Regions from separate parts of the Homo sapiens genome. Here region 1 is linked to region 2. The links come from fine-mapping of genetic effects on gene expression. A gene starts in region 2. The other region holds a variant in brackets. All regions are shown on one strand. Distances are between the middles of the regions.

Region 1 (8,749 bases), 87 kb after region 2:
GTGATCCACCTGCCCCAGCCTCCCAAAGTGCTGGGATTACAGACGTGAGCCACTGCGCCTGGCCTGCTAGGTGCTTTATATCCATTCTCCCAGAAAACCCTCATGATGGCTTTGCAAGGTGGGTGTTATTACACTCATTTTCAGATGAGGAAGCAGAGGAGAAGGAAGGTAAGTTATCAGGGGTGCGCCCAGCATGGTCCCACTTCCTGCTGCTGGGCTCCCTGCAGAACGTACTCCATCCTTGACACCTACTCCTGCTCCCTTGCTTTGGGACTGGCTGCAGATCTACAGGTTGTCCAGAGACTGTGTCCATGTAGGTGCCATGTACACACCTCCCGGCTGGTCAGCTCTGTGTCAGCACTCAGGCCACCTCCCAGGAAGGGGTGCTCACCCCTCTCCAGAGATGGCACCTTCTGGTGACCATCCCTGCCCCTCTATTGCAGATGCACTTGGGAGGCCAGTTCTGTGCTTCACCTACTTCTACCTTCCTCCTTCATCTGTCCCTTTCATTCATTCTTTCCCTCTTGAAGAGAAAGTGGACTCAAAGTTCAAGCTGATCTAGCAGGGAGACTCTGGCTCTGACTCCCATAGACTGTTTTCTTTTTTCTTTTTCAGCTCCTGCTGAATGGGAGGTAGAGCCTGGGGTGAAGCCTGGAGAAGTCATCCACAGGGATCCAGGGCCCAGCAAGGGGTCCAGGGCAGGGCAAAGCCAAGACTGTTCCCAGCCAGTTCCCAGGCAGGATCAGGCAGAGACCAGCAGAGTCAGGCTCCCCTAGAAATTGCCCCAATGCAGATCTGAAGGTGGGTGACACTCTGGCCTGTAAGGACACTCATGCACAGATACCAGGCACTTCCCATGTACCAGGAGCAGTGCTTAGCCCTGGAGCCCAGGCACAAGCAAGACACCATCCTTGGCTCAAGGGACTCCTGGCTGGTGAAGATAATTATGGAAAACAACCAACCTGGGAACACAACAAATCCTCTGAAAATGAGGAATGGCTGCCATCTGTCTGGAGGCTCCCTGTGCCGGGCACCAGGCCGGGCATCTGGGGTGCGTTAGGACTCATGCTCATGAGTGACTTTGCAGTGCAGATATCTTTATGTCCATTTCTGCCAAGGAGGTGATTGAATTCTAAGGCTCACTCAAGGTCAAAAATCATGGAGGGTCAGACTTGGAACACAGGTCTGTCTGACTCACCTTCCTTCCTCCCAGCTTTGGCTCCTAATCCTTGCATGAGGAGCCTCTGAAAGCGCCTTTTGCCAACAGCCAGCAGGGTGGGAGGCCCCAAGTGCACTGAGCAGAGCATCTTGCCTGTAGCTGATCTTGGCTATGACCGCAGGGAAGAAAAGAGATCCTGTGTTTTGGGGGTGAGGTGTGTGACTGGGGGAAGACAGTCCTGGCAGGGTGGAGGTGGTAGCAGGGGCCACCACTGAGTTCCATGGCTGAGCTCATTCTTGGCCTTTAATCATAGCCACTGGGTAGCTAGAATGTCACATCGTACTGGGGGCAGAGGGCCCAGGTAACTTCCCTCCAGACCAGGGGCATGGGTGTCTTTCAAAGGAAGCAGGGAGGGCCCTCCAGCCCCGGCTCTCTGGTAGCAACTCGAGAATAGATCCTGGCCCTGTGTCCCTGCTGGAGGCTGCCATTCTGCCATCTGCTCAGCCTCTTGGGTCTGAAACAGCATCTTCTGTTGATACCGGAGCTCACGAATCAGTCGTCTTCTCACTGTGGCCAGGGCACGCTGAGCATTTCTCCAGGACATCCTTCATCGATTGGGGAAGTCTTCTGCCTGGAATGTGCTCCATCTGCCTGCCTCTCCCTCCTCCTTCAAGGCTCAGCTGAAGTCTCCCTCTGCTGAAGCGTTCTTTGACAACTCGGTCTGGCCCCCCATTTCTTCACACTTTGCACCCTGTCTTAGGCAAGTTGCAAGGTCCTTCAAAGGCAGGGAGCAGAGACGCACACAGAGCCACTGGAGCAATGAGGGCAACTGTAAGCCTGCACAGCAGGGTCCCCACGGCACTGCTAGCTCTGAGTTCAGGACTCTACAGCAACACACAGCGGCTCAGGAGCTGCAGGAGCCCACAGCCGCAATGCTCATCCTGGCCAGCCTCCCTGGAGTGCCACACCCTGCCCCACCCCAAGGCCCACCGGCCAGAGCCTTGAGGCCTCAAAGCCATCCCTTCCCTGTCGCCTGGCCCACTGGCAGCTGGAAACATGCTGAGAGGGAAGGCCAGGGCTCAGGCGGGTCAGGGTCTCTGTGTCAGATGAAGTCACGGAGGGCACGTGTGAGGCAAGAGGCTGGGGGGGATGACAGCAAGCCACAAGTGGAGCCCTCGGCTATGTGGAGCCCCGGAAGGAGTGGGAAATGGCTGGACTGCAGTGTAGGAGACACCATGGGAAGGAGGCCTGCAGCCCCAGCTTTGACCTTCTTCCTGTCCCCAGCTCCAGGTTCTCCTGGAAGGTCAGCTGCACTAGGTGGGGGCTGGGTGAATCTCCATCACTGCATTCTCCAGGCCTAGAGTGGCACCTGGCACCCAGTGCTGCCTGGGTCCATGTCTTGCTGTAGAGAACTGAGCACAGAGCTAGAGGTGTCGTATCACCCAGATCACAGATCGGAAGGAGACACTGTCCCATCCTCCAGGGCACTCACTCCTAAAGTGGCAAGCAAACAGGACATGGAGACAAGGTGTGATGGGGGCATGCAGTGGTGAGGGGATGGGGCATGTCTGGAAGGGAACCGTGTGGAGAAAACTCTCTTCAACAATCATCAACACAGAATACTTCTGTGATCAGATGTGCGGGGGTTTTCCACACACCAAGCAGCGGACTCCAGCTGGGGGTCCTCGAATTCTGACTCCCTACCTGGAGATAGTGTGAGACCCCACAAGTGGAGGGCTCAGTCCCCAAGACTGCCCCTGCCCCCCACCTCCACCAGTCACAAGTCCAGGCCTCCGGAACTTCTGACATACTGACTTCAAGTTGGGGTTCCCATGACCCCCTCTTTGGGTTTGAGTAATTTGCTGGAGCGGCTCACAAAACTCAGGGAGACACTTACGTTTACTGTTTTATTATAAAGGATATTGCAAAGGATACAGGTGAAGAGACGCATAGGGCAGGGTATGGCGGAGGGGTGTGGGGGTTCCATGCCTGCCCTGGGGCACCACCCTCCAGCGTTCTCCATGTGTTCAACTGCCTGGAAGCTCCCTGAACCCTGTCCTCTTGGGTTTTTATGGAAGCCTCATGACATCAGCATTCCTTCCCCCAGGGTAAGACTGTGGTCTTAAGACCCACAGTCAGAAAGGCAGGGGACACAGGCGTGAAGGGAGGGCAGGAGAAGGTCAAGGGCCTGCCCCTGAGGCCTTAGACACCCAACACCATAACCCAAGCCTGTAACGATGGCTGTGGGGGTTATGAGCCAGGAACTGTGGGCGAAAACCAAGATAGTTGTCACAACACCATAGGACCCCTCATCCCAGCCTCAGGGGTCTGGGGCACTTCCTGGAGATGAGGCTTGAGGTTAGTGGGGTTTTAAAATTTATTTTCCTCCCAAGTTTTTGTAACTTAATTTTAATTTTATATTTTTTAGAGACGGGGTCTCGCTCTCTCACCCGGGCTGGAGTGCGGTCACAGGTCACTGTAACCTCCAGCTCCTGGGCTCAAGGGATCTCTCCCTCCTCAGCTTTCCAAAGCGGGGGCATGCATGAGCCACCACACCCAGCTGTAAATTTTAGAAATAATTTCAAACTTACAGAAAAGTTACCAAAATAGTACAAATTATTTCTGATACAATTCGAACTCCTTAAAATGTTCATGTTTTACCACAGTTGCTTTTTCTCCCCATCTCTCTCTCATTCTCTCTCTTTTTTTTTTTATTCAGAGTCTCACTCTGTCGCCCAGGCTGGAGTGCAGTGGCGCTATCTCGGCTCACTGCAAGCTCCGCCTGCCAGGTTCACGCCATTCTCCTGCCTCAGCCTCCCGAGTAGCTGGGACTATAGGCGTCCGCCACCACGCCCGGCTAATTTTTTGTATTTTTAGTAGAGACGGGGTTTCTCTGTGTTCCAGGATGGTCTCGATCTCCTGACCTTGTGATCCGCCCACCTTGGCCTCCCAAAGTGCTGGGATTACAGGCGTGAGCCACCGTACCCGGCCCTCTCTCTCATTCTCTTAATACATTTTTTTCTAAAATATTTCAGAGTAAGTTGCAGACAGGAAGCCCTTTTACCTCTGAATATTTCAGTGAGTGTTTCCTAAAAATGTGGACACCCTTTAACATAACCGCAGTACCATAATTCATGTTAGGAAATTGCAATAACACTATTAGCTAATTTGGATTTTATTTTGAGGAACTCCTCTGGTCAACACTGGTGAGGTGTGGCGTGGGCAGGCCGG[G/T]GGTGTGGGGTGGCCAGTGAGTATGCAGGGTTGGTCAGCACTTCCGTGCTGGTACCCGAGAGGGGTAGGGGACACGAGATTGCAGAGTAAGCTCATCTCAAAGGCCTGGGACTTAGTTGAGGGTTGAACTTGACCCCAAAGCACTGGGGAGCCGGCAGATTGGCAGGCTGGCCAGAACAGGCTGGTCCCTCTTGTGTCCTTCCTGATGCCCTGGCCTGGCACCCGTGATTCCAGTCGGCCAAGGGCCCTCAGTCCATGGGAGAAGAATCGAGTTGCCCTGTTCAGTGAGAAGTTCAGGAAGAACAGAATGTACTTACTGTGCCCAGGGAACAGGGAGTGGAAGGGCAGGGAAGGAATTAAAAGAAAAGTAACCGAGTGTGAGTGTCTGGCAGGAGCCTGGCCTGTTTTGTAACCACGAAGTGTCCCAGTGAGTCACCACTCTTCTCCAAGGCCTGCTCCTTCCGTGTCACCCCCGAGCTGGTCTCTTGTTCCAGCACTGTTCTCCTCTCAGCTTGGTGTTCCCGGGGCACGTGGACTCGGAGTTATTCACAGCTCGGTTTGAATTCAGCCGTGGCTGGCTTGTGAGCTCAGGCAAGATGCGGTCCTCTCTGAGCCTCCTGTCTTTTTTTTTTTTTTTTAGGTGACCGAATCTCACCCTGTCGCCCAGGCTGGAGTGCAGTGGCACGAGCTTGGCTCACTGCAACCTCCGCCTCCAGGGTTCAAGCGACTCTCCTGCTGCAGCCTCCCGAGTAGCTGGGATCACAGGTGCCTGACACCACGCCCAGCTAATTTTTGTATTTTTAGTAGAGACGGGGTTTCACCATGTTGGCCAGGGTGAAACTCCTGACCTCAGGTGATTCGCCTGCCTCGGCCTCCCAAAGTGCTGGGATTATAGGCATGAGCCACTGTGTCTGGCTGCCTCCTGTCTTGTAGATTGTGGCAGGAGCTCCAGGTGGGATGGGAGGTGTTTTGCCCAAAGCGGGCCCAACGCAAGCCTGGTTCCATCACTCACTGGCCCCTAAGTCTCTTTGTGGGTAAGGCCCATGGCTCCCGGGCACTATTTCCCCCAGCTGCGAGGAGGCCCGTGCTTACCAGTGAGTGCCTTGAGAGCAGGCCTGGGCCCGATTCACCTCAATGCTCCTGCCCAGGCCAACGGCACACAGGTGTGTTCAGTTGATGTTTGCCGAGGCTATGAGGAAGATAAGCCCCAAAGTCGGCACCTAGCGTGCAGCAGAGCCTTGGGAAGCGTTGTAGTCTTACGTGAGGTCTTTAAGCCCTCCAGAGTTATGCCCCAGAGCCCAGCGTGCCGCAGGTGATGGGTGTTCCCCTCCTGAGTGTACACCAGTTGGGAAGGAGACCCCTGCACGTGGAATTACTGGGGCTAAGGAGGTGAGAGGCGGGAGCTGCAGCTGGGGCTGCAGGAGGTCGTAGCTAGGACTGCCGGGCTACACTGGGTGTGGGGGTCTGAGCAATGCGTAAGGCAGGAGGGAATGTGGGTGTGTGGGCAGGGGACAGGGGTCTGGCTGCAGCCCTCATCTCCTGCCAAGGCTTTTCCTCTGCCCTTGGGGTAACCCGACACCCAGCCATACACCTGAGGTGCACGTAAGGGCTGCACCTCACCTGCCTCTCTTGGCTGCTCCAATTGCATTTGGAAGGTGTTGCAAATTGCTCTGTGATGTTCTGGAGCCAAACCATGTCCCTGGCCCATAGCCCAACCCCTGGGGCTTGGCGTCAGTGGCATTGTCCCTGGAAGACAAGCTGCCTTTGAGGGTTTGAGGGTTTGGAGGGTTTGAAGGCTTTGGTTTGGCGGGCCCCGTCCACAGGGCTCTACCTGGCTGGGTCAAGCAGAATCAGGGTGGTGAGAGGACACAGCCCTGGGCCACCCAAAGGTGCCCCTGTGATGAACAATGTAGAGGTTAGGAGTGTGTGCTCTGGTGTCAGACAGCCTGGGCTCCACTTACAAGCTGTGTGACCTTGGACAACTGACTGAGCCTCTCCGTGCCTCAGTGTTCTCATCTGTAAAATGGAACTGGTAAGAGTCCATACCTCCTAACAGTGTTGTTAAGGTTAAATGAGCTTATACAAGTAAGCCACTGAGAGCATCCCTAACTTGTGTGAGCGTCATACAAATGGAAGCCGGAAGCCACTAGGATAGAAGGCAGATTCCTCTGAGGGCAGAATGAGGCCAGCCTCCCCTCTCCTGACCCTCCAGCCCTCTGTGATCTGCCCCTGCCCATCATCCTGCCTCATCTCTTAAGCACCCCTCCCTCTCCACAGCAGCTACACTGAGTCGCTGGTGCTTCTCTTGAGCCTGCTCAGGCCTCTGGTCCCAACAGGTGTCCTCCTCTGCCTGGGGCAACTTTCCCCTCTTTGTGGGGTCAACACCTACCTTTCACTTCCTTTCATGACTCAGCTCAGGTGTCACCTCCTCCAGGAAGCCTTTCACTTAATGCTGTGACATGATTAACCTCACTAAAGCCTGCAAGGTTTGAGCAAATGGAGGCTCCTCTAAGAGGCAGAGCTGCTTGCCCAGGGGTAAGCTGGAGTGGGGAGTTGGGACTAGGCTCTAAAGCTTTAGAGAAAACCAGCTTTAGGGTTGCTATTCCCCCTAGCCAGACTGCCTCTTGCTGTCGGCATTTGTGGGGGACGCTGGAACAAGCCATCCCAGTCCTGCTTCAGGACTGAGGGACTTAGTCCACAGCTGCTGGGAGGCTGCCCATCAGCCTTTCCAGGAATTGCCTTGGCCGAGGGGAGCTTCATTGCCCAGGGCCATCTTCTTCCTCAGAGGATGCCCGTGCCTGTGTGGAAGAGCCTCATGCGCAGATATAAAGGCTTGGTCTCTTGCCCCAACCTGGGACAACTCAGGGCAATGCCAGCTCCAGAGCTGCCTGTGGCATCAACTGAGGCCTCCACTGAGGCTGCTTCACAACCCAACTTCTCCCTCCACTCAATCCCACCTTCATCCCCCACCCCAACATGGAGTCCCAGAGTGCTTCCCAGTGACAGTCCCGGATGCTAATCTAAAGCAGAGTCTGCTTCCAGGGAGCCCGGCCTGCAGCAGGTTCTTGCTTGGAGGCATCTGAATCTTGCTGGAAGGGATTACAGAGATGCCCAGAGCCTGCAGGCCAGGCTTGGGTGCTGTGCAGCAGGAAACGCTATCAGGTCCCTGGGATGACATGGGTCAATGCTCCCTCACTGCTGTGGCTGCTCCTAGGGCCGGATGCCAGACCCCCGCCACACTGTCCCCAGACCAGTGGAATACCTTCACAGCACATGAAGGGTTGAACTTGACCCCAAATTCAACCTGGTTTATGGTGTGAGGGATGGGCTAACCCAGGAATGAAAGGGGAAGGATGGCTTGTGTTTGCAAAGGGAGCTTCCTTTGCAAAAAACCAGGCCACTTATGCCTTACTCCAGAGAAACAGTCTCTTAGATTAGTTAATTAAAAATTCCTGAGGGCAGCAATCACAGCCGATTCAATTCTGTCTCCAGGGTCTGGCACTGGGTTGGGAACTTCGGAACACTCAATATTTATTGAGTGTGTAAATGAATGAAAGAAAGTGGCATTAAAAAAAACCAAACAGGCCCCGGTGTGTGATGTTCCCCTTCCTGTGTCCAAGTGTTCTCATTGTTCAATTCCTACCTATGAGTGAGAACATGCAGTGTTTGGTTTTTTGTCCTTGCGATAGTTTGCTGAGAATGATGGTTTCCAGCTTCATCCATGTCCCTACAAAGGACATGAACTCATCATTTTTTATAGCTGCATGGGGCCTGTTGTGGGGTGAGGAGAGAGGGGAGGAATAGCATTAGGAGATATACCTAATGTAAATGACGAGTTAATGGGTGCAGCACACCAACATGGCACATGTATACATATGTAACAAACCTGCACGTTGTGCACATGTACCCTAGGACTTAAAGTATAATAAAAAGAAAAAAAGAAAAACAAACAGGCTGTAATCCCAGCACTTTGGGGGGCGGAGACGGGCGGATCACGAGGCCAGGAGATCAAGACCATTCTGGCTAACACGGTGAAACCCCATCTCTACTAAAAATACAACAACAAAAAATTAGCCGGGCGTGGTGGCAGGTGCCTGTAGTCCCATCTACTCGGGAGGCTGAGGCAGGAGAATGGCATGAACCTGGGAGGTGGAGCTTGCAGTGAGCTGAGATAGCACCACTGCACTCCAGCCTGGGCGACAGAGCGAGACTCCGTCTCAAAAAAAAAAAAAAAAAAAAAAGAAAGAAAAGAAAAGAAAAGAAAAAACAAACAAAAAAACAAAAAAGGAAAGAAAGTGGCATTAGGTCTGTCCCCCCAGTGGAAGGTAAGCTCATGAGGGCAGGACAACATCTGCTTCA
Region 2 (8,749 bases):
TGACAGGTCCCTCTCCAGGACTCAGCTGAGCTGCTTTGCCCAAAGTGATGTCCCTTCCCCAGGGCAACCACATCTGTCCATGACTGGTCAAGGTGGTATAGAAAGGCTTGAACCCCTGCCCAAATTCTGGACAACTTGGAGCACCAGCCTGGCCCTGAGCTCATATAGGATCCACTGAGGCCTCACAGCTTAACTCTGTCCTCTGCTCACTGCTTCCCTCGTTCAGCGCTGCTGATCCCAAGATAAACTGTGATAAACATGTGTGCACACGCTTTCCCTCTGGCTCAATTCCGCCCTCTACGTTGGCCATCCTTCAACTCCTATTCATGCCTCAAAACCATCTTCTCAGACGTGAATCCCCAGTATTCATCGTGATCTCTTTCGAGAGCAGCTGGGAATCCCTTGTGGGGCTGCTAAGGGGGTGACACCTGAGTACTCAGTGGGCCCCTTTCTGCTGCCTCTGCAGGGACCCCGGGCTGATCCTGGGAGCAGAGGACATCTGGTCACAGCACCTTTGCCCAGTGTGGGGTGAAGAAAGGAATGCCGGGCCTTAAGACAGGAATGGATGAGAGTCGGAGTATGGTTGTTGAATTTACAGGCCTGGCCTCAAATCCCAGCTGTGGCAGTCAGCCTCCCAAGCCTGTTTCTTCAATCAGAAGGTCAGGTGATGTCTCTTCTTCTCAGTGTCGGGAGATGACAGTGCATGGCTCTGGGTCTGGTGCATAGTAAAAATCAATGTTCCCACCACATGGGAACTGTGAACATTCACAGAATAAAAGAGGAACTGGCAGGCCATCTCCTGCACATCTGTCTCCTCCTCCTCAGCAGCCTGGAAGCCCCAGGGGTCCAGACTAGGCCTAATTGGGCCCTGTAACACCCAAGAGTCATGGGCAGAAATATGCATTTTTGTTCACACAGTGTGACTCAAATGCTGTCTCTGTAGGCATTGCTGAATTCTACCCTCCCATAGTTAAAAACCTACAAAGAGAGAGAAAGTAGGCAATGACCCAAAATACAGAGAGTCATACTTAGGTCATGAGAGCCATCATCCCTGAGAAGCTAAACTCACCTGAACCTAAGCTTCACCACAACCATGAAATGAGCCCTTATTATTCCCAATAGCAAAACCCAGATCCACAGGGCCCAGCGTATCATTTTTCCATTTGTATGAAACAAACCAGCCCACACCTCAGTGGCGTAAGGCCACAGCCATCCATTTGCTCTCGAGCCTGCATTTTGGGCAGGGCTTGGGTGGGCAGGGCTTGCCTCAGTTCTATGAGGTGTGGTTGGAGGCAATCCCCTGGGGCATCTTAGATGGGCTCTGCGGAGTGGCCAGAGGGATTGGAGGCTGACCAGGTCTCCCTCTCCAATGGGGCATTTGGACTCTACCTGGTGGCTCAGAGCTCTGGGAGAGTTAAGAGAAGCTGCCTATCATGCTTGTAATCCCAGCACTTTGGGAGGCTGAGGTGGGTGGATCACCTGAAGGTCAGGAGTTCTAGACCAGCCTGGCCAACATGGTGAAACCCCGTCTCTAATTGAAATATAAAAAATTAGCTGGGTGTGGTGGCAGGCACCTGTAATCCCAGCTACTCAGGAGGCAGAGGCAGGAATATCGCTTGAACCCAGGAGGCAGAGCTTGCGGTGAGCTGAGATCCTGCCATTGCACTCCAGTCTGGGCAACAAGAAACTTCGTCTCAAAAAAAAAAAAAAAAAAAAGAGAAGCTGCCTAGGGGCCAGCCCAGAAGGGAAAAGCATTACTTCCTCTGCATTCTATGGTTAAAGTAAGTCACAGGGTCAGCCCAGGCGGAAGGGGGAGGGGAGGGAAACAGACACCACCTCTTGATGGGAGAAGCAGCATGAGGTCAATTTACTCCACCCAAGGTCATAGATTCAGATGGAGCTAAGTAGTAAACCCAGGTCTGAACCATCTAATAATATTGACTGCCCTTCCTCCAGGCCTTTGCAGGAGCGTCTACTGGGCCGGAAACCTCCCTCCATCTCCACAGATTGGTTTCACTTCCACTCACCCATCCATCAGGAGATATCACTTCATGCTGGAGCCTCTTCGGAGCTCCAGAGTCCTCCTCTGTGTTCCCAGGGCAGCCTCTACGTCCCTGACCACACTGTACTGTCACTGCTGCTTACCCATGGACCTCTCCTGTTAGAACTCAAGGACGAGTCCAGCAAAGGACATGTTCTTTCCAGACCACCCCAGAGTGTCTCCCATTTAAACAATGGGTTTGTCATGGACCCTGATGGGGTGAGGTTGGTTGTGGGGGTCGGTGTTCAGGATGTTTCTTTGGAAGTTCCCTTAAGAGTAACCCCTGGGCAAGGAACTGGAAGGAAGCAGGAGGGAGACCCTGAGCAGGACACAGGTCTTGTGACAGCTTTGACTGTCTTCATGGGGAGTCCTGGGGCTAAAATACCCCATCAGCACTGTCCCCAGTCAGGCAGAGATGGCCAAGCTTTTATACTTCTGCTGGGATAGTCATTGGGATGTGGGCTATCCCAGGAGGGACATGACAGAGGGCAAGGCTGCTCTCTGAGCAGGGGCAGTTCCTGGAGAAGCCGATGGCTGGGGGACTGTCTGCTGACAGCACCACCTGAAGCCGGGGAAATATTCCCATTCTCCTAACAGGGCAGAACAGTGGGGGGCAGTCCTTGAGGGCTGCACAGAGGAAGTGGTTTGCCAGTTGTGACCTATGGCTGGAGGGAGGAGGGCAGGAACAGCAGAGTGAGGGAGGGTTTTACCCACATCCATGCGTGGGGGAGTGGGGAGTTCTGGACCAGGTCCCCAAGGGATGTCATTTGACTGGATTAATACTCAGGGACAGAATCCCCATCTCCTCTGTGCCAGGTGCTGTGCCATGTACTGGAGAACCGGATAGCACCTGGATAGGGGTCAGGGCTCCAGGGAACTCCACTCCCTCCTAATGGCCCTCCCCTCCACCCCATGACCCACTGTCTACACTGCTGCCAGACTGATCTTTCCAAAAGGCAAATCATACATGTGACTCCTCTGCTTAAAACACAGAATAAAATCCTAGCTCCTTGTCCTGGCCTGCCAGGCCCTCTGATCTTCCCCGCCCTCCTCACCTCATCTCCTAAGCTCTCCTCAAGACCAGCCATGCCAAGTAGGTCTTCCTCAAGGCTTTGGCAGTCACTGTTGCCAAGGGGGTAGGGAACTATGCCTGGAACTATTTTTCCCTAGGTGATGTTCACAGAGATGCTTCCTTTGCATCCATCAGGTCTCAGCTCAATGTCACCTCCTCCAGGAAGGCTTCTCTGATTACTCTTTTGGTGCATTCCTTTTTTCTTTTTTTATGTTTACTCAACAAACATTTATCTTAACTATGTCCCATGCACTGTTCTAGGCAGTGCAGGTAACGGGGTGTTAAGCGAGCCAGGCCCTGTCCTCTTGGAGCTTACAGTCTAATGGGAAAGACAATCAGTACACAAGTAAAAATAAAAAATAAAAAAATGTCGGCCTGACTCGGGGGCTCACGCCTGTAATGCCAGCACTTTGGGAGGCCAAGGTGGGCGGATCACCTGAGGTCAGGAGTTCGAGACCAGCCTGGCCAACATGGCGAAACCCCGTCTCTACTAACAATAAAAAAATCAGTCAGGCGTGATGGGGGGCGCTTGTAATCCCAGCTACTCAGGAGGCTGAGGTAGGAGAATTGCTTGAACCTGGGAGGAGAGGTTGCAGTGAGCCCCGAGATCGCGCCACTGCACTCCAGCCTGGGTGGCAGAGCGAGACCCCGTCTCAAAAAAAAAAAAACCAACAAAAAAACCCCCATGATTTCAGAGCGTCTGAAGTGCTATGAAAAAACAAGAGCGAGGAAAGGCGACAGAGAGGGCCTAGGCTGGAAATCTCGGAGCCGCTCTGGAGACCGGCCCTGGGCGTAGAGTGGGGAGCAGAGGCCAGAGGGGCCGTGTGGAGCGGGTTGGGGGCGGCAAGGGTCACCTGAGCCCCACATCGGAGTTTGGGGAGAGCACCCGGCCGGCCCTAGAGCCCTCTGGTCTGGCCGCCCCGGAGGCGCGCTCGCTCGCCGGAAAGGCACGCGCGGGAGTCAGCCAGGTGCGGCTGCCGCGGGGAGCCGCCCTCCGGGCCGCGCTTCCTGGGGGGCGGGTCTCACCGCTGTCCCGCCCCTGGGCCGCCGATAAATGCGCCGAGCCGGCCGGCACCGCGGGTTCGGAGCGCGAAGCCGCCGCTGGGTCCTCGGCGCGCCCCGCGTCTGCGCTTGCTGCCGCGCCCCGGTCGGCGCGCTGGGAGTTCCAGCCATGCTCTTCTGGCACACGCAGCCCGAGCACTACAACCAGCACAACTCCGGCAGCTACCTGCGGTAAGGGCCGCGCGCGGTCCCCGCGGGTCTCGGGCCGGGCCGGCGGGCCGGGCGCCGTTGGACGTCCAGGGGCGGAGAGGGGGCGCCCCTGCTGGGCCCTGGCCTCCCCGCTGTCCGCCCTCTGGGGACTGAGAGACCCGCCCAGCGTCCCGCCTAGGGACTGACAGATGGACGCCGGCGGGACCCGACGTGCGGAGTTGGGGGCCCGCTGGGGAGGCGAGCGCGCAGAGCCCTATGTCTGCGAGGGCTCCTCCCAGGCGGCAGAGAGGGTGCAGGGCGCGCACCTGCCGGCCCGCCGCCTCCCCTGGCCCGTCCGCCCCCTGCGGCCCTCCTCTCCCCCGCGTATCGGAGAAGCAGAGGAAACTTCCTGCCAGCAGCCTGGTGCCCGGCCCGGGGAAGTTCGTCCCCTGCTCTTTGCCCGTCTCCGCCGGGGCCCCTCTCCCAGCCTCGCGCCCTCTGCAGTGCCCTTCCTTGGACGAGGGGCGGGCGGCGGGCTCGGAGGGGCAGGCCGCCCCACTTCCCGCGATGGTCTTGCGCGTGTTCGCCCGAGGCCCGCGTGGTTATTGCCCTTGATGGAAATCTTTCTTCTGCTGGAGGGATTTGAGTAGTGCCCTTCAGAGGGGAAAGTAAGTCCTGCGTGTTTTGCACAGTTCCCCACAGGCCCCTCTTAGCAGTAGGACCCCGTGTGCTCTCGCTCCCGGAGGATTGTTTTTCCCTGTTCTGCTGCTGGCCGGGACTAATGGGCAGTCATTTCACTTTGTGAACTCGCCTGAACCAGCTTTAGCCTGTCCTTATTTCCATCTTAGTCACAGTTTATGAAATGTGCCTAATTTAACCCAAAGGGCATTTGATATGGGCTCAAGGAAAATGAATGATGAGGCCGAAGGAGTCACAGGCATTGACAGCCCCCATACTAGAGCTACCTTTAAGTGCTAGTTTTGGCCCCAAGAAGTTCCCACTTAGATCTTAAAACGTTATTTGTAATTCCTGGCTGCTGGTAGGTATTTGTCCTCCCTGAAGACATCCCCTTTTCCTGGAGGCGGGGGAATGATTGGGTTTAGTGGATGTATCTGCTGTTTTTATTCATGGGCCAAAGTAGTCGGAGATGGCAAAGGTCTAGAGCCTTAAAGGCTGACAGCCACCCGGCAGACCACGGTGATGTCACCAGAGGGAAGCCCAGGAGGAGATGTTAATCACCCAGAGATTAAGTGTCCATTCACTTGCAAGAAATGCTACAATGGAATACATTTTTACTGTACTGAAGTTTTAGTTGTAGCTTTGGCTAAGTTTTAGTTTGCTGCCATTAAGTATGTTGCCATATCTTAACAATGAGTTTGAAGGTGACCCTGAGTTGAAGGTGAGTGTACTTGAAACTTCCTAGATACCTACAATGTCCTCACCCCGTTAGGGAACAATTCTCCCTTGCCTGGGAGGTACAGTTCTGACATCTGCTACCGAGATGGAAGTTTGTCTGGAGTAGCTCAGGTACCTTTTAGGATTTGGTGAAAGGAGGAGGGTGAGCGTTGGGAGTGGGTGGTGCTGTAAAGCCATATTGGCTTCTGGGGTCATCGGGGGACCATGGATAAAGAAGTCCTTGCCCTTTTTTATTTCACTTCTTGGAAGCTGGGAGTTTTGCCCTCAGTGAGGGCCAAGGTGGCGGTTTGTGCATATGCCCCTGGTCCCCTGACTCTAGAGGGAGGGTCTGGTCCTTTTCCTTGCGTTTTTTGTATTTTATTTTTGGTCGTCTCCTCACTTGGCAGAACTTCTGCAAGCTGTCTGACCTCACCAGGGTAGAGGCCTTTACTCCCTTCCCCCTTTCTGTTTGATGTTCTCGTGACTTTTATTCCTTGGCAAATAAAGATGCCAGGCTTGAAACAAGTTACTGTTGAGGGATGGTTCTTAACTTCCTCTGCCCACCCGCCCCTGTTTAAAAAATTTAAAGGCAGCAGTCCGTGGATTATTAACTTGACATGGTCTGGGCAAACATGAAATTATGCAATCCTCAGTGTTCCTAGAGAACCACCCGGGCTGGGAGTGTGCCCTGCTCTGACAAAAGGAAGACGCCCTGTGGGGGAAAGTCGAGACGGCCTTGCACCCTTATTTTTCGGCAGTGGATGGTGACGGGGGAGGCCCACACAGGGCAGGTTTTCCAGGTGTGTGCTCAATGCCAGGCTTTTTCTTCTCAAAATTGATGAGATGTTGATGGGGTGTGTGCCGGGTTTGTGTTGTAGAGACGCTTGTTTATGATGTGCGAGGAACAGATTGTACCAGTGACTCTGTTTATACAGACAAGTGGGGTCAGCTAATTGGATTCCTAGTCAGGGACCCACGAAGGGAAGAGGGTTATCAAGATAAGAGCACTGGCACTTATTTGGCACTTGTTTATGTGCTGCTCATAATTTAGAGACCTTACACAAGCCTTGCCTGCCTGTAGGTCATTCATGTTCTCAAGGAATTCTTTGTCCCTTGTAAGGGCATTTTTAAAATGCTGGGTTTTTTGTTTCTTTCTTTTTCCTTTTTTTTTTTTTTAGAGATGGTGGGGTCTCACTATGGTGCCCAGGCTGATCTCAAACCCCTGGCTTCAAGCAGTCTTCTCACCTCAGCCTCCCAAAGTACTGGGATTTCAGGCATGAGCCACTGTTCCTGGCTTAAAAAATACGTCCAGAAACAAGTTCCTCCCTAAGTCGCAGGATGATGACTTCATTTTTTTTTTTTTTTTTTTTTTTTTAATGTGGAGAGTTTTGTTAAGAGGTGGAGGAAAAGAAACTTGGAGCAAGGATTTCAAGATTTCCCACTTGGATAAGAAAATAGACTGGGCTGGGCGCGGTGGCTCACACCTGTAATCCCAGCACTTTGGGAGGCCGAGGAGGGTGGATCACCTGAGGTCAGGAGTTAGTGACCAGCCTGACCAACATGGTGGAACCCTGTCTCTACTAAAAATACAAAAATTAGCCAGGTGTGGTGGCTCATTCCTATAATCCCAGCTACTCAGGAAGCTGAGGCACAAGAATTGCTTGAACCCGGGAGGTGGAGGTTGTAGTGAGCCGAGATCACGCCACTTGCACTCCAGCCTGGACAACAAGAGTGAAACTCCGTCCCCCCCGCCCCCGCCCAAAAAAAACAACCACACAAACACAGACTTGAAGCCAAGGTCCTTCCTTCCTGTTTGCCTTTTGGACAGATTAGAATGACCCTGAAAACAGTGTCCAGTTGTCCTCTCTTTAGAAGGGATGGAGGAATGTCTCAACCTGGGTACTCAGGGAGGGAAGGAAGTGGTTTGTTCATTTGCATAGTTTACAGAGCCTGGAGGACAGAGTTGTATTGCTATGAGAAGTGGCCGGTAAATGGAATTGTTGATTAAAAAATAAAAATGTTTGTTTAGATTTTTATTCTAAAAGTGAAACTTTATGAGTGATCGCTTGTGGATAGAAACCAAATAAATGTCTTAGAGGTCCCTTTGCTGCTAGCCTGTCTCTGGCATGGAGAGGATTTCTGTAGATGTTAGCTAACTTTGCCCTTTTACCTCCTTGATGGGCTGATTGAATCAGTGTTTTGGGGGGTCATTGAGTGAAACTAGAGTCACGAAGGAGCGGTTTCCTCTGTTTTAAAGCATCTGGAGTATTCGAGGGTTGCAGGAGTGCAGCCAGCACCCTGCGATGCGCGTGCCGTGTCACCCTGGGCCCCGGTGGTCTGCGTCGTCTCTCTAGCTTCGCCCTGGCTCTGTGCAGGAGCCCCCTGGGGCTCTGCTCCTGACCTCTGCTTCCCGTGTGTTGCAGTGATGTGCTCGCTCTGCCCATCTTCAAGCAGGAGGAACCCCAGCTGTCCCCCGAGAACGAGGCCCGCCTGCCACCCCTGCAATATGTGTTGTGTGCTGCCACGTCCCCAGCCGTGAAGCTGCATGAAGAGACGCTGACCTACCTCAACCAAGGTAGTGGCCAGAGGCCCCGGGCCAGGGCGGAACCCAGAAGTAGTGGGGAGCTGATGCGAAAGGCCCATTTGGGCCTTGTGACTTTGTTACGGTGGGTGAGGTCGGGCGAGGTCGGGCTCGGGAAAGAGAACAGGTGCAGGTTCAGATTCCATTTTCCAGCTGTGTGACCCCCTCCAGCCTCAGTGTCTTCATCTGAAAAATGGAAACATCAGATACCTCACGCGGGTAACAGGGTAACACTCTGCATTCCTCCTATAGCCCCTCCATGGAGCAGATGCTAGCATTATTTCTGTTTTTCCCTCCCTCCCTCCCTCCCTTCCTTCTTTCTTTCTTTCTTTTTTTTTTTTTTTCCTTTTTTGAGGGGGTCTTGTTCTGTTGCCCAGGCTGGCATGCAGTGGCATGATCATGGCTCACTGCACCCTTGACCTCCTCAACCCAAGAAGTGACCCTCCCACCTTAACCTCCCAAGTAGCTG

What was found.
Region 1: its variant is fine-mapped to the expression of TFCP2L1 in whole blood (TOPMed, PIP above 0.99). The same link has a PIP of 0.9 or more in monocytes.

What each region holds. Positions count from the first base shown.
Region 1 is chr2:121,193,598-121,202,346 of GRCh38, reverse strand. No RefSeq gene overlaps it. Among named protein-coding and RNA genes, the nearest start is that of TFCP2L1, 87 kb to the left of the region's middle. RefSeq lists enhancers at 1,625-2,124, 2,125-2,626, 4,472-5,370. The variant G/T (reference allele first, on the strand shown) is at 4,391.
Region 2 is chr2:121,280,645-121,289,393 of GRCh38, reverse strand. TFCP2L1 (transcription factor CP2 like 1) reads left to right here and starts at 4,192. Exons shown (of 15, transcript NM_014553.3): 1 at 4,192-4,346; 2 at 8,123-8,274. The coding sequence starts at 4,285. RefSeq lists a silencer at 4,027-4,166.